Linked DNA regions of Homo sapiens: all the other regions are linked to region 3. The links come from fine-mapping of genetic effects on gene expression. A gene starts in region 3. Each other region holds a variant in brackets. All regions are shown on one strand. Distances are between the middles of the regions.

Region 1 (5,151 bases), 39 kb after region 3:
ATTTTCTGAAAGAGTGAAGTAGAAATAATTTCCAGAAAATAACTTGTCAACATAAAGTCATGAGGGAGGCTGGTGATATGAGAAATAGAAGGAACTGTCAGAGCTCTGCAGTCATGGTCTTCTGCAGACCAATAATAAGGCAGTATCATGTTCCGTCCTTTCTCCCTCAGAACAGACAGATGCCAGTTAGTTCCCAGGTCTGAATTGTGCTCTCTTCCAATCGCTAAACTACTAAAACCCAAAGTTTTAGTCTTTAGAAATTCAGTTGAGTTGTCAGTTTATAAGAACCTGCTATGTGATGGATACGCTATTTTAAGGATATGAAGATTAGTAGGAATTGTGTGGTTATATATTATTTAACTCTGGATGCAGGAATCGTCTGATTGGTTTGGGTTCCCAAAGATGAGAGAAATAGCCTTGATTTTAGACAGCATGCAGACAGGGATACTGGGAGCATCTTTGGGGATTCCTTCTTCTATAGTCACTGGGGTTATACCCAGTGACTCACCTTGATTTCTCCCAGCCATAAAATCAGACTGGTAATTTCATCTGGTTTGCTCTCTACTTCACAAGAGGTAGTAGAAGACTATATCTAAAGAATAGAGCACTTTAATTCCCCAGAACTCCAACAAGCCCAGCACCCCCAGATTATATGTTGCTAACAGCAACAGGGCAACTTGAGAAGTTATCCCACATCCCAGGCCCATTCCTGTAGTTCGTCCACCAAGGTCAGTTGGAGAAACTTCCATCCAGAACTGAACTCTAAGGCACTCGGATCCCTCTGCTGGCTGATAGCAGAAGCACCACTTAGCTTTTTCTTTTCTTTTTGTTTTCAAATGAATTCAGGTATTCTAATTAGCATTTTCTTTCTCTCTCCCACACTCCCTCTTTCTGTGTTTCTCTTTCTGGCTGACTGTAATCCTTAATACACTTCTCTTGGTGTCTTTAATTCCTACATTGAGCTTGAGTTCATAGCCCATTCCTGGTAGAAGACCACTGTCTGATGGGTGCTGGCTAAATGAATGCCTCAATACAGGGTTACAGGGGCTGCCATAGAAATAGGTTCAAGGTATGGAGGGGACATTAGGCCCTGAACTCATGAATGATTCCTGCATCTCATATCAGTGATGGTCATAATAATGGCAAGTAGTTATGCAGACTTGGAACCAAGCACTTTGTTAAACACTTTACAGCCATTATGTCATATAGTTCTTTTTCAGCCCTGTAAGGCAGCTTCTCTGTCATTTACTCCACAGATAACAAAGCTCAGGCTGGATTCATGCAGCTTGTTGATGGTGGGGCTCAGGATGTGAGTTCAGGTCTCTCTGGCACCAATGTCATAACTGCAAACTACAATGACTTCAGATACTCCAGGCTTTCCAAGCCCATATCTTGGCAGAAGTTCTTTGACCTTGCTCTCTGCCTAGAAGTCTCTTCCGCCTTTATCTTTTCTCAGGAATTCTGATTTTTCCTTCAAGATTCAGTTCAGGGTCACTTCAAGAGGGCTATACCCCCATCCTTTCCCTGTTTTGGTTGTTTGCTGAGACCTCTGTGAACCAGTGTTTGTCTCTAATGGAGCACTTATTGCACATTTTTGTGTTGATTCCCCTACATGTCTGTCTCCCCAGTAAACTTTGATCTCTTTGAAGGCAGGAAGTGTATCTTACCAGTCTTTGTATCCCTAGTACCTAGTACCTAGCACAGAGCCCAGCTCATAGCAATAAAAATGACAGCAATATTTCACATTTACTACGCACTTACCTTGGGCTGGGCAGAGTGCTAAGCACTTCATTTTTTAGACCCTCTCATTTAACTATCACACAACCCATATAATATATAGAATTATGAAGAAACTGAGGCTGAGAGAATTCTATAACTTGCCCAAGGTCACCCCAGTAAGTGGCAAAACTGGAGCTTGACTCCAGGTCTCCCTGAACTTCTTTACATTTTATTAATTTTCATGCCCTACACTTTTTTACCTGATTAGGTATTTTTTCTCTTCCAATATTGATTGAGACGTATGAGTAGGAATTACATTTTCTTTGCTAAAATTAGTAAGCACCTTGAACAGTACTTGCTGTATGTGCTCCAGTACTTGCTGTATGTGCTTGCTGTATGTGCTCCATTTAGATAAATCAGATATTAAATTTTTCTGAAGAAAAAAGCTTGGGAAACATAATTACATAAGGTAACTAGAAATGATCAAAATCTATTTCTTTACCTAGCAACTTCAGATGAAATTTTGCAGCAGTTTCATGAAATATTTTATGAAATAATTGCTGTATTCGTCTGTCACTGAGAAATACAAGTGTAAGTTAAGCATTTCTGAAGCCTGAAATTCACCGAGTGCAGTTTTAATTACCCAAGAGAAGCAAATCTAAAACTACTTGCTTTTCAGAGCATAATTTAAAAAATGAACAACAGTCTTTGCAATGAGATTTTATGTTAAATTTAGGTCACATGTTAATTTTAACTGTTAGGATATCCTAGAATGTGCATTGTTCTTTACCAACCTAACTGACGAGTCAATTTGCCTGTCTTAAATATGAGGCTTAGTCAGTTGCTCACCTCATATTTTCAAAGTACCAGTGAAATTAGTGGATAGTTTAAGATTAGGTAGGTGCTAAAGAAATACAGTCTATCATTAGCTATATCAATATTTGTAATTCTTATACTTCAATATGATATTTCATGCTATTAAAGCCTGTTTATTACATTTTAATATCGAGAAAAGCCCATATCCTTTAAAGGTTACCTTACTTATAATTAAATCTTGATAATCATTAAGTCATTGGTATCACTAAATTATGTTAGGGTAGCTAACATTTCCATTTTACAAGATGTAACTTTGCCTCACACTGAGTGTAGTAAACATAGAATATTGGGACAGGCCAGGCATGGTGGCTTAACGCCTGTAATTCCAGCACTTTTGGAGGATGAGGTGGGAAGATCATTTGAGGTTAGAAGTTCGAGACCAGCCTGGCCAACATGGTGAAACCCCATCTCTACTAAAAATATAAAAATTAGCTGGGTGTGGTGGTGCATGCCTGTAATACCAGCTACTTGGGAGGCTGAGGCAGGAGAATTGCTTGAACCCGGGAGACGGAAGTTGCAGTGAACCAAGATTGCGCCACTGCATCCCAGCTGGGCGACAGAGCAAGACCCTGTTTCAAAAAAAATCTTCGGGAGGC[T/C]GAGGTGGGCGGATCACCTGAGGTCGGGCGTTCCAGACCAGCCTGACCAACATGGAGAAACCCCATCTCTACTGAAAATACAAAATTAGCCAGGCGTGGTGGCACATGCCTGTAATCCCAGCTACTTGGGAGGCTGAGGCAGGAGAATTGCTTGAACCCGGGAGGCGGAGGTTGTGGTGAGCCGAGATGGTACCATTGCATTCCAGCCTGGGCAACAAGAGTGAAACTCTGTCTCAAAAAAAAAAAAAAAAAAGAAAGAAAGAAAAAAAAGAATATTGGGACAGTAAGGGATCTTGGTCCAACTCCATTATTCTACAGATGAATTAAAGGAGGCTCAAAGAAGCTGTCTGCAGCTCCTTGCTTCCTCTACTGTACCAGAAAGCCACGTTGCATTAAAATAACCACGGATCCTAGCCGGCCTGGTGGCTCACGCCTGTAATCTCAACACTTGGGGAGGCTGAGGAGGGAGGAGTGCTTGAGCCCAGGAGTTTGGGCCCAGCCTGCTGTACATAGCGACACCCCTGTCTCTACAACAACAGCAGCAACAAAAAATTATCCGGGCGTGTTGGCGTGCATCTATGGTCCTAGCTACTCTGGAGGATCACCTGAGCCCAGGAATTAGAGGTTGCAATGAGCTGTGATCGTGCCACTGCACTCTAGCCTGGGCGACAGAGTGATACCCCGTCTCAAAAGAAAAGAAAATAGCCATAGTTCCTTGTCCGTCTTAGCTGCATTCGTGTCTCACTGCGGCTTTGCCAATTTTCCTTTCTTTTCTGCAGGTTGCATACCCTGTCCTGAGGGCGCGGCACGGAGTGCATGCGGGCCGCTGCCATGACGACCGCCATCTTGGAGCGCCTGAGCACCCTGTCGGTCAGCGGGCAGCAGCTGCGCCGCCTGCCCAAGATCCTGGAGGATGGGCTTCCCAAGATGCCTTGCACTGTCCCAGAAACGGATGTGCCCCAGCTCTTCCGGGAGCCTTACATCCGCACCGGCTACCGCCCCACGGGGCACGAGTGGCGCTACTACTTCTTCAGCCTCTTTCAGAAACACAACGAGGTGGTCAACGTCTGGACCCATTTACTGGCAGCCCTGGCCGTCCTCTTGCGATTCTGGGCCTTTGCCGAGGCTGAGGCCTTGCCATGGGCGTCTACCCACTCCCTGCCTCTGCTCCTCTTCATCCTGTCGTCAATCACTTACCTCACCTGCAGCCTTCTGGCCCACCTGCTGCAGTCCAAGTCAGAGCTCTCCCACTACACCTTCTACTTTGTGGACTATGTTGGCGTGAGCGTTTACCAATATGGCAGTGCTTTGGCTCATTTCTTCTACAGCTCTGACCAGGCCTGGTATGACCGGTTCTGGCTTTTCTTCTTGCCAGCAGCTGCCTTCTGTGGCTGGTTATCTTGTGCTGGCTGTTGCTATGCCAAATATCGTTACCGGAGGCCTTATCCAGTCATGAGGAAGATCTGTCAAGTGGTGCCAGCAGGTCTGGCTTTTATCCTAGACATCAGCCCTGTGGCACACCGTGTGGCGCTCTGTCACCTGGCTGGCTGCCAGGAGCAAGCAGCCTGGTACCACACCCTCCAGATCCTCTTCTTCCTGGTTAGCGCTTATTTCTTCTCCTGCCCCGTGCCTGAGAAGTACTTCCCGGGTTCCTGTGACATCGTGGGCCATGGGCATCAGATCTTCCATGCATTTCTGTCCATCTGTACGCTCTCCCAGCTGGAGGCCATCCTCCTGGACTACCAGGGGCGGCAGGAGATCTTCCTGCAGCGCCATGGACCCCTATCTGTCCACATGGCCTGCCTCTCCTTCTTCTTCCTGGCTGCCTGCAGTGCTGCCACCGCAGCCCTTCTGAGGCACAAAGTCAAGGCCAGACTGACCAAGAAAGATTCCTGAGGCTGGCAAGTGGGGCAACGTGTGGAGGAAGCCCCTCATAATTTGGAGAAAACTTGATACAATA
Region 2 (5,151 bases), 27 kb before region 3:
ACCTCCCGGGTTCAAGCAATTCTCTGCCTCAGCCTCCTGAGTAGTTGGGATTACAGGCACACACCACCACGCCCGGCTAATTTTTGTATGTTTAGTAGAGATGGTGTTTCACCATGTTGGCCAGGCTGGTCTTGATCTCCTGACCTTGTGATCGATCCGCCTTAGCCTCCCAAAGTGCTGGGATTACAGGAGTGAGCCACCACGCCCCACGTGGACTCAATTTATGAAGTAAGAGTCAGGTGCTGACTACATGATGTGAGAGGTACAGGAAGGTTTTTACATTTCCTATTACTGTGCCTAGAAGCCTACATGGTGGCCCAATCAGGAGGTAGGAATTTTTCTTCTGTCGTCATCTATTAAAGGGGCTCTAGCCCCAACTCTGCCACTGGGAGTTCTGTGAAATAGTTCTCTGAAATTCCATTTTAAAAGAGAAAAAGTTCTTTAGAAAATGGGCATATGGCTAGGTGCAGCTGCTCACACCTGCAATTCCGGCACGTTGGGAGGCCAAGGTGGGAGAATTGCTTGAGCCCAGGAGTTTAAGACCAGCCTGGGCAACATAGCAAGACGCTATCTCTAAAAAAAAATACAAAAATTAGCCGGGTATGGTGATGTATACCTGTAGTCCCCACTACTCAGAAGGCTGAGGTGGGAGGATTGCTTGAGCTAAAGAGGTCGAGGCTGCAGTGAGCTAGGATTGAGCCACTGCACTCCAGCCTGGGCAATGGAGTGACACCCCGTCTCAAGAAAGAAAGAAAGAAAGAGAGAAAGAGAGAAAGAGAGAAAGAGAGAAAGAGAGAAAGAGAGAAAGAGAGAGAGAGAGAGAGAGAGAGAGAGAGAAGGAAGGAAGGAAGGAAGGAAGGAAGGAAGGAAGGAAGGAAGGAAGGAGAGAGAGAGAGAGAGAGAAAGAAGGAAGGAAGGAAGGAAGGAAGGAAGGAGAAAGAAAGAAAGAAAAAGAAAGAAAGAAAGAAAGAAAGAAAGAAAGAAAGAAAGAAAGAAAGAAAGAAAGAAAAGACAAAGAAAACAGGCATACTAATACCTGTCCTGCCTTCTGCACAGGCAGAATGGTGAAAGAGATAAGAGCACAGGATTTGGACTTGGTCAGACCCAGGCTTTAATCCTGATTTTGCCGCTAGTTAGCTGTGTGACCTTGGGCAAGTTATGTATACCTAGCTTTCTCCTCTGGAAATTAGGGATAAGAGTATCAGCTTCACAGTGATTATGACGATTAGTTGAGGTATGTAAGGCATTCAGCACAGTGACTGGCAGGTAGCAAGCTCTCAGAAGATGACAGTTAATTTCATAAGTGGTCCAAAATACCTTTTGGGAGATAATGCTCACGAGTGTTTTATTCACAGGGTTGCTGGCCAAATGAGAAAATGCACAGGAAAGCAAAATGTAACAGGCCTATCAGGATGAAAACACTGTGAGAAAGGTCACACATTAAACCACAAATGTTTTGGGTTCCTTGACAACTAGATTGTGCTACAGAGTTGGTAGGGTAGGGAGGAAGAGGAGAAGCTGAACTTCAACTGCTGCAGTTTTTCCTGGGGCTGGCCCTTGTTAGAATAATAGACACTCTACCATAGAGAGGCAGTTGATTCACCTATACCTGTTGGATAAAAAAGAAAACCATGTGGCTGGTGGAGCTGAGAAAGTGGAAAGAATAAAGGGAGCAGAAGATATATTGCTTGAAATCAGGCAAAAGTTCCATATATCAAAAGCCTCATTCTGGCTGACTTCATCACCAAACTCCCCTCCCAGAGGCCTCTGCCTGGGCTTTTGCAGAAAACATGTACAAACTCTATGCAAAGTAAGAATCCAAAATAGCTTATTTAGAAATAAACCACCTGCTTGTACAAACAGGAAGATCTGAAATCCCTGGAGTTGGGCAAGTGAGTTCCTTGCTTCCCTGCCTAGCCCAGCCTCCTACTGGACCCCCACTACCACAAAGGGATGGAATTACACTCCTTTCTCTCCAGCCTCTTTGCTTTGCTTTTTCCTTTTATTTTTAGTTGTCATGTAATAATTGTACAAATTGATGGGATATGGAGTGCTATTTCTTTTTCTTTTTTTTTTTGAGATGGAGTCTCGCTCTTTCACCCAGGCTGGAGTGCAGTGGTGCAATCTCAGCTCACTGCAACCTCCGCCTCCCGGGTTCAAGCGATTCTCCTGCCTCAGCCTCCTGAGTAGCTGTGACTACAGGCACGCATCACCATGCCCAGCTAATTTTTTGTATTTTTAGTAGAGACGGGGTTTCACAATGTTAGCCAGGTTGGTCTCAATCTCCTGACCTTGTGATCAGCCTGCCTCAGCCTCCCAAAGTGCTGGGATTACAGGCGTGAGCCACCGCACCCAGCTGGAGTGCTATTTTAATACATGCATACAATGAGTAATGATCAAATCAGGGTAATTAGCATATCATCACTTCAAACACTTACCATTTCTTTGTGTTGTGAACATTCAAAATCATCTTGTAGCTTTTTGAGAATATACAATAAATTATAATTAACCACATTCGCAAAGCACCAGAACTCTCACCCTCCTCCCCTCCCTCACCCACCCTTCCCAGCCTCTAATACTCACAATTCTACTCTCTACTTCCATGGGCTCAAAAAATTTATTTTATCTCCCACATGAGTGAGATCATGCGGTATTTGTCTTTCAGTGCTTGGTGTATTTCACTTAACATAAAGTCCTCCAGGCTCATCTATGCCATGAATGACAGGATTTTCTTCTTTTTTATTCCAACCCCTTTTCTTTGTTCCTTCTCATGGGAACACATCAATAAAGGCACCTACTGGTGGCCAAAGGGGGCTCTCTGATGCCACCACCCCATTCCCTATCCTACCCTTTATCCCATCCTTTATTCCTGTCAGAGACTAAACAGAGACAGGGGAATGAGTTTTCACTGTGGATTACTTAATTTTTTTAGGTCACAGTGTTCTAATCAGTAATCATCCATCTTTCTGTTACCTCATTCTGTGAGGCGAAGAATTTAAAGCCTGCTTGAATTCAAGGTCAGGCTGCCTTCTGCAGCTGGAGGCATCCCCAGCAGGCCAAGGCTTCACTCTCTCAGCTGGTGTCAGGGACCCTTAGGGAGTGGACAGAATAGC[A/C]TGTGGAAAGAGGCAGTGTGACCAGCCTTGCCACCTGTTTCACAGGTGGCACTGCTGGCTGAGTCAGTCTGCTAAGGAGGACAGCCCTGGAACTGGTCAGAGAAGGCTTAGTAAATCTCTTCTGATTGCTAACCTCTGAGACCTCACAGCCTATAATTTCCCAAGACAGACCTGTTATTACAAACAGTCAACCTAGTAATCACTGCCCAAGCCCAGGTGTCCTGAAGAAGTAGGGTGGAAGCTTGCATTGAAAAAGGAAAATGATAAGGAGATATTTGCCCAGCAAAGATATTCTGTAGAACAGATAACATGGGCACATTGTACTGCCTTCCTCCATCTTCCCACAGCACCTACCAAAGTCCTGGCAAGCCATCAAATTAGGCTTATAGGTAGCTGCCCTTTCTGAAGGCTACATTCAAATTTTTCTAAAAGATAATTTGATTTCATTCAGTTCAACCCAGTGAGTTTATACATTTATTTTAGCATCTATTCTATGCTTGGTACTGTGAGGATGAGCCATGAATTAAAACATCAGGTCAGCGTATACTCGACACAGTTGTAGAAATGAGAACCTTTACTTTTTCACAGTGAAGACCGAGGAAGCTGAAAAGAATGCTTTTGGTTTTCTTCCCTCTACCCCAGACTCTCCCAAGGCCATACTTTTCTCTCTCTCTCTCACTCTGGGGGAAGAAATATTGAAATTTTTTATCTAAGGCTTTTTCCTAGAATTTGAACTGCATAGGGAACATTGCTTCATCATCAACATTTTCTTTCATTTTCAACCTCTTTCCACCTGCCCTAAAAACATGTTTGAATCTAACCCACCCCTACTGTTCTTTCTCTACCTTCATTTCTTCCTGGGATACAGTTTTTCATCTTTTGCTCATGCAATTAATTATTCATTCATTAATTTAACAAATATTTAGTGATGAACAGTATGAGTAAGGCCCTTTCCTACGCTGGAGACAAAAATGAATAAAGCCTTGTTCCTTTAATGAAGCAGTCCCTAACCTTTTTTGACACCAGGAACTGTGTGGCCTAAGTGAGTTACATATTCCCTCTGAGACTCAGTTTACCCTAAGATTCTGTTAACTGGGAATAACTATGTATTTGAGAGTTATTGTGAGGGTTAAATGATATATCGTGTGAAAAGCTCCTGTCACATGGTCAGTGCTAAACAAATATTAGTCACCTTTCCTTGCATGACACTATACATTCTTAGCTCTTTGCCCATTTCTCAGACTGCTTAACCTAGAATTTCTTTGCTGGATCTGTGTTATCCCTATCCCCCTGAATTGTAGGCATTACTTAATAGAAATTTGTTTTTGAGGGTTACCCAGGATCCCCTCACCAAAATTCCAGGGAAAGTTCAGGACTGTAGTTTGGAGACCCCGCCCCTTCCCACTTCCAGCACCATCCCTCATCCCCAGCCTGAGTGGTCTTGGGACAGCAGAAATGGGGGTGACATGTGACCCAGGTTTGGCCAATCAGAGCCTTGCATTCTCCTGAAAGAACAACGATTGGTTCAATGATGGGCACGACACTCCTCTAGACTTCTTTGCTTATATGAGCCGCGAATTCCTCTTTTTGCTTAAGCTCTTTGGATTGGGCTTTCTGACACTTAGAAGCAAAGGAGTTTGAACTGAGAGAGAAATAAGTTAACACTCACTCCTCATTCATTTAACAAATGCTTACTAAGCATCTTCCATTTACTAAACACTGTGCTAAGAAAGTGGCTAGACACCATCCCTATCTTCAAGAAGCTTATAGTTTCATAAGAGAAAAGTAAGTAGGTAATGACAATACAGTGCTATTGGAACTACAGAAAGGGGCTGTACCACACGCTCTTAAAGCCCATAGAGGGGACAATCTAAGTTGGTGTCATGGAAGGCTTTCCAGAGTGTATAATCTACATGGAGACCCAAAAGATACAAGGCCAGGCAATGATAAGGGGAGGGGTGAAGAATGTTTCATGCAGTGAGAAATGGTAAGCAAAGGCTTAGAGAAAATAGCACATGGCATTTTTGGAGACCTGTAA
Region 3 (5,151 bases):
ACTAGGTCTGATACGTGTTGATTGGATTCGCAGTTTAGCATTCTCCTTATTGAGGAAATACTGCAGTACCCAAGATCTTGGCTGTTTCCAGGTTTTGGAAAAATCTCAGGTCAAAATTGTGTTGCCAGATGGGATTATTACATAGAGGAAAGTTGGCTGTGAATTTCCATATACCAAAGGCCATCCTAACTGTCTTTTATGAAGGACCCAACAGGCTTTTATTATAATTCAAAAATAGCCAGGTCACCCTAGGACTTTTTCCAGTGTTACCAAAACATCACTTTTACTGCCCAAACGGAAGTAGGCCATTACCTCACAGTAGAAAATAAAAGAAGCTAGCTTGAGACCAAGGTAGTTTTAAAAGGCATGAAGGATGAGAACCACCATTCTTATTTAGTGGCTCTGGACAGCGTCACTTGGAAACAGAACTGCCTCATGCACAGATAACAATGCCTGACACCCATTACACTTTACATGCACGTTCACATCTGCCTTTTGGATAAAGGGCAAGAAGAAAGGAACATTTACCATTGAGAAAGAATTAGAAGCCTTGTTAGTCTCCTTTTAAGACTTCTTCACATTCCACATGGATTAACTGTTAGGGAGAAAAACACTGCAAAAATAATCAGCAATGCATTTCGGAGGCTCATCAGCTCCCGGCTGACAGCTCACGTTAGTTGGATGAAGGCTGTGGATAGGCTTTTAGATGTGCTAACCTGTAATTTTGTTTCTAGAGTGGCCCAAAGTGGAAGGAGTTTTCACTCCCTCTCAATAAGCCCTCTTGTACGGTTGTGACCTCTGGCCTATCATAGGTTTTTGACGATAAAGGAGAGCCCGGGTTTTTGAGGTTAAGGGAGAGTTCCCTGACATCTTTGGGGTGAAGAAGAGATGGAGGGAGCAAAGCTGCCAAAGACCTCCTGTGACATTTCCACTAGTATCCACCTATAAGTAAGTGCTGGACTATGATTCCCTGGGGAGATCAGTGGCTCTAAAGACAGGCCCCTGGGCTCTTTCCTGGCTCTGACTCAGCTTCAAACCTGCCGTGCAACTGCTCAGAGTCTAAATGTCTTCATTTATGGAACTGAAATAATCCTGCTAAGATTACTTTCTTTGCTTCGTGATGTTTGCCTGAGAATAAGTAGCTGGGACTACAGGCGTGTGCCACCACGCCCATCTAATTTTTGTATTTTTTGCAGAGACAGGGTCTCACCTTGTTACCCAGGCTGGTCTCGAACTCCTGGGCTTAAGCAATCTGCCCACTTTGGCTTCCCAAAGTTCTGGGATTACAGGTGTGAACCATCACACTCGGCTAAAATGTTTTGAAAAATGGAAACATTGTACAAATGTGAGATGTTGTGCAACATGTCACTGAAACACGGTGGTATAAGAGAAGTTTTGGGAACCAGCAGACCAGAATTAGGCCTGAGAAAATCTTACAGTAAGCAGACCAGAATTAGGCCGTCTGAGAAAATCTTACAGTAAGCAGACCAGAATTAGGCCTGTCTGACAAAATCTTACAGTAAGCAGGCCATCTTCCCAGGCCTTCTCTTTTCTCCAGATAATGAAGAAGGCTTTTTAAAAGCAAAGCCAACTTGATTTGTTAATTGATCATCCAACTTCTTAACTGTCTTTTTCTCATGGTAAAATACCGAGAACATTGTGGGTGAGGAGCAAGTCGGGAGGTGGAACCCACCCCCGCACCCTGCCTCCAATAGATTGTATGTGTGGGTCGCTATTGCTGGGACCCACGAAGGCTGTGGATTGAGGACACAGGGTAGAAGTGGGATCTTCTGCAGGTCAGTGTCAGATGTGTCTGTGTGATGTAGTCATGGGAGAGGCGCGAGTCTTGGGCGGGTGTATCTTAGGGGTGTGGAAGTGTCTGCAAGGGCCTCCGTGGTATGTCATCACATTATTTATATCATGGGCATGACCCTGAACGTTCACCCGAGAGTGGTGAGAGAAAGGCCAGGATTTAAATCAGTCTTGACAGCGCAGATGAAGTTTGTTATTGTTTTCCGCCCTTCCCGAGGGACTTCGGAAATGGCCCCCTGAGAGGTGAATTCTTGGAAAGAATATGAGGGCGGTTAAGGCGTCTCTGTCTCAAACTCTCCGGATTTTTTGCAGCTACCAGGGACTGCGAGGGTCTGCGTCCTGGGTGGAAGGAAGCGGCGTCAGTCAACTTCCTCGCAGCGGCGGCAGCGGCGCGGGCTGCAGCGGAGCGCGCGGGTCTGCGCATCCCGCCCCCGGGTCGGGAAGGGGCGGAGCTGGGCGTCACCCGCCCCCGGCGGTCTCCTCCTCCCGGCCGCTCCCCCGAGCCGAGCCCGCCGCGGTCACAGCCACCCGCGGGAAGCTCGTGGCCGGGACCCCGAGGCGGGAGCGCGGGCTGGGCCGGGCTGGGCTACGCGCACGGGCTCGGCCGCCGCCCCTGCCGGTGAGTCCCGCCGCGGGAGGCGCGGAACGGGTCGAGTTGGGTATTGGGACCGCGAGGTCGGGGAGCCCCGGGGCCCGAGCTCGGGAGGCGGGGACGTCAGGATCGCGGCGTTGGGGAGTCCTCGCACCCCGAGCTCAGAGGGGAGGTCCAGAGTCGCAGCGTTGGGAACCTGAGGCCAGGGGCCGGAGTTTAGGGCCCCGATGTTGAGTCTCCGAATCCAAGCCCGGAAGGGGGGACGACGGGTTAGGATGCTGGGGAGCCCTGGAGCTCTGAACGGCTGTAGTGGGGTGGCCAGGACTGCGATGCTGGGGAGTCATGGAGCCTGAGCCTGGAGAGCTGGCGGGGGTGTGGGGACCGCGATGTTGGGAAGGCTGAGCCCGGAGGGCGGGAGATTCAGGACCAAGACGTGGGGGAGTCCGACAGGGCAGAACGAGGGGCGTCCTGTCCGCATTTGTGGGGCGCCCTCCGCAGGGCGGAGGGGAACGGAACCTGGGAGGGGAGTGCGGAGGAGAGGAAGCCCGGGGCGGTAGGGAGAGCCCGAGGAAGGGCAGCCCGAGGTAGGGGAACCCCGGAAAGAGTAGGGTGGGTCTAGGCATGTGCTTTCGCCGGGGAAAGATGGAGGGGGCTTCTCTGAGAGGGTGGGCGCGAGGAGCGGAGTTGTGATGGGAACCGCCGGCAGCTGGCTAATGGGCGGATGCTGGGGCTTGGCTGGATGGGAACGCCGCGGTGGGGTGTCGGAGGTGGCTGGTGGGGCTGGAACGCTGGGAACGTCTGTCTAGGCTATGAGAACGCAGCGCCCTCGGTGGAACAGGGTCGTAGATAACTCGAGAGGGAATCTAGTCTAGGGAGCAAGACCGGGCATCCCCAGACGGAGGCGGGTGGGGACCTCGCACTCAGCGCGCTTGGGGAATATTCGGAGCCTGGGTTTGGGGGCTGCTGCACCTTGCCGACCCGGTGCGGGGACCTGGAGGTAGCCGGGCACAGCAGCTTCCTGTGCAGCTGTGGGTGCTCCAGGCACTGGCAGACTAGTGGGAAGTCCAGGAGCCTTGGCAGGCTCATTGTCTTGACCTAAGTTGCATTCCATATTTCTTAGCTGGGTTAGAAATGATTTTGTCCAGGAACCCAATGAGAAGAGCCTGGGCTAAAAAAATTAGTTATGGAGTGAGATTTCAAATGTACAGGTAATACCTACCCGTGTGTGTGCGCGCCTTAGGGATAACTCATACAATACACTGTATGTGTGATTTTTAGACCCACGTGTGTACTACTTGTTCCAGTACTCTGAGAAGCTGTTTCTGGGTAAAAACGAGGAAAATCCACAACAAATACACACACCAAACAATGTCCACAAACGCACTGCATTCCAGTCGAGTTAAACATGAGAGTATTGTACAGTTTGGGAGTATTTGCTTGTCAGTGAAGACTCCTGTTACTGAAGTTAATAGGAGTTGCCTGCATGGAAGGTAGACTGCCCTTGACTGCCCTGTTAAGGTTATCCACAACGTGTACCCAGCCCTGAGCTGCTGCACCCTTGACCAGGTCAACTGGAAGGGAGCCAGACTGCTTAGGACCTCAGTGGATGAGTATCCAAGTGTGTATCTAAAAACAAAGGACCAAGGCATGGCTTTGTTTTTGTTTTTGTTTTTTATTTCTGCTGTTTGTCCTTGGGTGCGTGTCCTTCAATTATTAGTTAAATGTTGACTATCTTACATTAACCCATCTTGTATTGTTAATTATGTATGGTAATTATTTCAGTTATTTGGCGTAACAACCAATTCTGGAAGACCCAGAGTAGAGGAATCTTATTAAGTGGATATATCCATTGAAAGATATGTTTTTTTTTTTTTTTTTTTTGCGGGTGTGTGTATGCACCAGATTTCCTTCTGGTGCATATAGGTCCATCTTCTGACACACACTGAGATTTGAGCTTCATTGGATAAACAAGGATTATTTTGGCAACTAGCATTTGTTGGGTCTGTTTTTAATTCATGAAAAGGAAATCTTTAATAATTATGCAAGTTAACAGGATAGAAAGCGATTTATTCATTTTACAAGAATCATTTCAGGATAAGCATATTTCCATTAAGGGTGTGTGTATACCTTATTGAGTGGTCAGGACCTTGCATCAAAATCTGCACTATCATTCCTGCAGCAGTGTACTTATTCACTTGGACGTAACACTTGCTGATGCTTCCAATTCTTTATCCAAATGTTAAAATAAATATGCCAGTATTTATACATTCAAATCAGTATTTCTCCCCTTCAAAAGCCTGCTCTTGGCAAGCTGTGTACTAATTCTAGTGATGCTGTCACTACTGAGAATAATTTTGGAGCTCCTGCTTTGGAGTTGCCTTCCGAGTTTGCAACACATTTCCTGATTGCCTCAGTGGTGGCAAACCTTCCTCAGCTGGGAAACAGCCAGGCACTGTGCGGGGCCAACTTGGGCTTCCGAGGTGGGGAATCGAGGTTGTCAATAAGTATGCTCATTAAAGTAATGAAAATTCTCTTGAAAGACTGGCAGTTCTAAAAGGGGCATTTAGTAATGGCATGGAGTATGTATTTAGGATTGGAAGGAATTACAGTTGGTCCCTGAATAACACCGGGGTTAGGGGCTCCCATCATCTCCACAGTGGAAATTTTGAGTACAACATTTAACTCCTCAAAAACTTAACTACTTTGAAGCACAACCTTCATTTTGGTGTTTATGCTCTGGTATGTAT
Region 4 (5,151 bases), 31 kb after region 3:
GATTACAAAAATAGGGCTGGGCGGAACACATACTTTAAATTTGTTTTTTCCTTTACATGTCTTTGACTCATTTATTCATTCAAGAAATCTTTTTTGAGAATGTACAATGTGCTAGTCCATCACTTTTCTAAGTGCAGTGGAGACTACAGTGAAAAACCAATGGAGCTCACATATCATGTGTATCTTTGTATAACAATAAATGTAAATATGCTAGTTATTTTAATAAGTGCATAGTATTCTATTTTATAGATTTATCTTAATTTACACAATCAAATACTCCATTTTTGGATGTCGAAATTCTGTTTGTTAGGTTTTGTTAAATATAGGGAGGAAATATGCACTGACCATTGGTGAATCTGAATCGATGTTCAAATGATCTCTGCTAATAACAGGATTGCACTGGTAGTGCCATTCTTTCAAATATGACTTTACAAATAGTGATATGCTCCTTGGAAGATGTAGCTATAAAGATCAGTATGAGCCCAGAGTTCTCTCACTTAACGACTATGGAGATCCTGAGGCATGTGAGACTGTTTCCAACTCCACCTCTGGCTCAAAGGCTGCTTAAAGCACAGTTCCAGTCCTTATAAATGGACACCAAGTTGTCATTTTGGCTGCTATTCCTTTGCAGCCATTTATAATTATGCAGTGATGTGTGAAGCTGGGCTTCTGTGAATTCTGGAAGCATTTCTTTTGCCTTTGATAGGAATTGCTGCTCATTTGTCCTCTATCCAACAACCAGCAGGTCACTTTCCTACCATCTGTGTGAGTCCCACACACAGTGACATGAAGTGATGTCACAGGATCTGTTTGTTGGTGATTCCAGCATGCTGCTTGATGTTCAGTACAAAGCAAAACATAGCCCAGATGAATTACAGAATTTTACAGTATTAGAGCTTATATAGATTACACCCCCATCTTAAGGACAAGGGCACCAAGGCATAGAGAGGTTGAATAATTTGCTTAAAAATCACTTAGAGCACTTTGGGAGGCCTAGGCGGGCAGATTGCCTGAGCTCAGGAGTTCGAGACCAGCCTGGGCAACACGGTGAAACCCCGTCTCTACTAAAATGCAAAAAAAACTAGCTGGGTGTGGCAGTGTGCGCCCTTAGTCCCAACTACTCGGGAGGCTGAGGCGGGAGAATTGCTTGAACCCAGGAGGCGGAGGTTACAATGAGGCAAGATCGCGCCACTGCATTCCAGCCTGGGTGACAGAGCGAGACTCCATCTCAAAAAAAAAAAAAAAAGTGTCACATAGTGATAGAGCTAGAACTAAACATTGGGACTTCTAATTTCTTGCCCAGTGTTCTTTCCAGGGAATCAGCTATTCCAAGTTTGTGGTAGATTCACATAGCATCCTTGTAATAGGTCAGGAAACACTATTGCTTTGGAGTGCTTCTATTTGTCATCCAGATAAAATGTCTTCAGTACCAAACAATGCCAGTTTCCCAAATATGGAGCTTTTCTTTAATTCCCCACTTTGTTAATTTGGGAAAGGCTTTTTAGGTAGCTTGCTATATGCATAGCAGATTTAGTGATCTCATTGTCATTGTGCTTTCCATTAGTAGGCTGATAAATGACCTCAGGTTTATGATTGGAATGTCTCACTACACCAGTTCTGTAAAGCTAGCCACAACAAACCATGTGTCTCTTTAATATGAAAGAAGCCCATCAGATTTATGATCATATTTATCTGGGCTAATAGACCTATTTGGATTATTTGATAGATTCCACTCAGATTTTGTGGAAGTCACATTTTATTCTCTTAGGGAGTATTGGAATCTGATTTACAAGTAAACTCAGTGTCAAAGATCTGAGAAACTTTGCAGTACTGATTGTTTTTGTAAGGCCAACTGCAAGTTATTTTTGTTAATGAAGCAAAGCAGTATTGCAGCAGCATATTTGAAGTTGTATATCAAAAAAT[A/G]TTGGGGTTTAGTCATAGAGGGCATTTTTTGAGGCATAGTGGTTAAGAACGCAGACTTTAGAGTCAACTGCTTAGTCACCTCCTGGATCTATCACATACTGTGCAGCCTTGGACAAGTTATGTAATCTCTCTGTAACTGTTTCCTTATCTGTGAAATGGGAATGATAATAGTACTGGTGTCAGGTATTGTTGGGAAGTTTAAATAAGTTAATATTTTCAAAGCACCCAAAACACTGTCTGGTATGTGCTAAACATCATATAAGTGTTTGATACTATTATTCTGACACTTTCTCTCTCTTTTTTTTTTTTTTTTTTTTGAGACGGCGTCTTGCTCTGTTGTCCAGGCTGGAGTGCAGTGGCATAACCATGGCTCACTGTAGCCTCAATCTCCTGGGCTCAAGTGATCCTCCCACCTCAGCATCCTGAGTAATTGGGACTACAGGTGTGCGCCACCATGCCTGGCTAATTTTTAAATTTAGAGATAGAGTCTTGCTGTGTTGCCAAGGCTGGTCTTGAACTCCTGGGCTCAAGCTATCCTCCCCGTTCGGCTTCCCAAAGTGCTGGGATTACAGGTGTGAGCCACTGTACCTGGTCGATTTGGACACTTTCCATTCATTCATTCATTCGTTCATTCAGTGATTTCTTGGAATATCAATGTGATAGGCACAATGCTAATGATAAAAATATTCTCAGCCCTCAAAGGATCTTGCAGTTTAGTGGTCAGAGAGACATATAATGCAAACCATGTAGGCATACAGTAAGGAAAGTCCTATAATGAAGGACTTTAAGTGCAGTGGCAGTTAGGTGAAGGAGCACCTGAGGGGAAGCCTTCACAGGGACCATTTGAGATGGGACATGAAGCATGAGTAGGAGTTGGCCAGTGGACATCAGTGGTGTGGGCATTCCAGGCATGCATAGAAGCACAAAGTCCTGAGAGGATGGCAGAATAACTGGAACACAAAGTGTCAGAGTGGGAGATGCTTTGGGGACAGTTAAAGAGACGCACAGGTAGGGGACCAGGAAGGCCTCCTGTATCCTACAGAGGTTCCTGTGAGAGATAATAAGGACTCAAATTCAGACAGGGGCCAATGAGAGGGAACCCAGCAGATGGAGGAGTTGGCCAGGAGCAGTGAGTGCAGTGACACGGTTACACCTGTTTCTCAGGTGATAGGAGACGTGCCCAGGTGCTGCTCTGCTTATCGATATAGTTCCTCTCTGAAAGTTAAATGGTCTTTTATGGGTACTTCACGTATTTTTACTGTGTTTTCAGGGGATAACAACTATCACCAAAAACGTGTCATTTCATTGTTTTATTGAAAGTTACTGAAAAGGAAATGCATTTTAGGTAGTTTCCATCAGTCAGAACTACGAAAACAAAACCAAACCTTAAGAATACAGATGATCCCCAACTTAGGATGGTGTGAAAGTGATACACATTCAATAGAAACCATACTTTGCATTTGGGGTTTTGATTTTTTCCAAGGCTAGTGATAGGTGGTGAAATACTCTAGCAATTCTGGGCAGCAGCAGTAACCTGCAGCTCCCAGTCAGCCATGTGATCTCAAAACAACCAGTACCCTACGGTGTCCTCTGTTGCCAGATGACTTTCCCCACCTGTAGGCTAAGTGTGTGTTCTGAGCACATTTAAGGTAGTGTAGGCTAAGAGTGGTTACGTTCAGTAGATTAGGTGCATTAAATGCATTTTCAACTTAAGACGTTTTCAACTTAACAATGGGTTTACTGGGCTATAACCCATCATATGTCAAGGAACATCTGTATTTAGCTTAGTTCTGTGATTTACTTTTAAAAAGAACACCTAAATGCACAATTTTTGGCTAAAATGTCAGATTTTTAACCATGAACTTGGGATTTTTACCCCATTTTTCTCTTTCCATTAAAAAAAAAATTTGAAAGGCGCTTCTAAGATAAATTTTTAAGATTAGATCCCGGCCGGGCACAGTGACTGACGCCTGTAATCCCAACACTTTGGGAGGCTGAGGTGGGTAGATCACCTGAGGTCAGGAGTTTGAGACCAGCCTGACTAATATGGTAAAACTCTGTCTCTACTAAAAATTCAAAAAATTAGCTGGGCATAGTGGCATGCACCTGCAGTTTAGTCCCAGCTACTTGGGAGGCTGAGACAGGAGAATTGCTTGAACCCGGGAGGCGGAGGTTGCAGTGAGCCAAGATTGCGCCATTGCACTCCAGCCTGGGCGACACAGCGAGACTTCGTCTCAAAAAAAAAAAAAAAAAAAAAGATTAGATCCCTACATAATGCAAGGCATTATTCAACATTTTTTAACACTTTCTTATAAACATTAAGTGAATTCATGGTACATATACTCAGTAAATAGAACTTTTAATTCCAATTCCATTATAATCTGACTCTAATTAAAAATCCTTAAAGGAGATAGGGGAGTTCAAATATCCCACTGCTCTAGATGTGTCCAAATGAATGTCCTCCATGGGCACTTCAAACTCAACATTTTCAAACATGTCTTTCAGCCCAGACCTGACCCAGGGAGGCAGTATTATGATGATTCCCAGGAGTGTTACAAAACAAATAATATTCCTTTTTGATTTTAAAAAATTGCATTAAAATCAATTATAAGGTAGAAAATACGTGTGGATAGATTTATTTTTACTAAGTTATATCCTTCAGTGGGCTCTTTATTTGAAATATTACTAGGACTTTATGTACATGTTTTGCCTCTTGAAAGTACTATTCCATTACTGACCATTTTGTTATTATTCATTCTGTTTTCTTCCTAAAAAGTGGATAGACAGGAAATCACCTCCTCTCACCCACCCACCCTTTTTTATGAGGACAATGACACTGAGTAATTGATTGTCTTAGGCATAGCCACACACCTGAGTAGAGCAAATACTAATAGCCAGACTTCCTGACTCCCAAACCATTACTTCTTTTTTCCTTCACCTTTGCAGAAGAGAAAGAAATTGGTGCCATGAGCCTGGGCCTAAAGAACTGTTCATTCAGTAAATAATTATAAGGTGTCTTCTATATGCCAGATATTATTTTCAACATGGGGACTTCTGCACCTAACAGTCCCTGCCTTTAAAGGAGCTGGTGGCTAATGGGAAAGTAAGTGGAGTAAACAAACGAACCCAGCTCCATGAATGAAGAAAACTGGGAGAGGCAAGGCCAGAGTCTAATGAAGGCTGGAGAGAGCCCTAAGCCAGTCTGGGAGTTAAGAAAAGCTTCCTGGT

What was found. PIP is the estimated chance that this variant, and not a neighbour inherited with it, causes the effect.
Region 1: its variant is fine-mapped to the expression of PAQR8 in whole blood (INTERVAL, PIP above 0.99).
Region 2: its variant is fine-mapped to the expression of PAQR8 in unexposed skin (GTEx, PIP above 0.99).
Region 4: its variant is fine-mapped to the expression of PAQR8 in whole blood (TOPMed, PIP above 0.99).

The regions. Positions count from the first base shown.
Region 1 is chr6:52,399,192-52,404,342 of GRCh38, forward strand. It overlaps PAQR8 (progestin and adipoQ receptor family member 8), which reads left to right. Exons shown (of 2, transcript NM_133367.5): 2 at 3,971-5,151. The coding sequence starts at 4,023. The coding sequence ends at 5,087. Among named protein-coding and RNA genes, the nearest start is that of EFHC1, 19 kb to the right of the region's middle. The variant T/C (reference allele first, on the strand shown) is at 3,192.
Region 2 is chr6:52,332,548-52,337,698 of GRCh38, forward strand. No RefSeq gene overlaps it. Among named protein-coding and RNA genes, the nearest start is that of PAQR8, 27 kb to the right of the region's middle. RefSeq lists an enhancer at 4,570-4,739 and a cis regulatory region at 4,655. The variant A/C (reference allele first, on the strand shown) is at 3,114.
Region 3 is chr6:52,359,819-52,364,969 of GRCh38, forward strand. It overlaps PAQR8 (progestin and adipoQ receptor family member 8), which reads left to right and starts at 2,333. Exons shown (of 2, transcript NM_133367.5): 1 at 2,333-2,431. RefSeq lists silencers at 1,737-1,922, 2,096-2,585.
Region 4 is chr6:52,391,114-52,396,264 of GRCh38, forward strand. All of the region lies in intron 1 of PAQR8 (progestin and adipoQ receptor family member 8), which reads left to right. Among named protein-coding and RNA genes, the nearest start is that of EFHC1, 27 kb to the right of the region's middle. RefSeq lists an enhancer at 1-301. The variant A/G (reference allele first, on the strand shown) is at 1,924.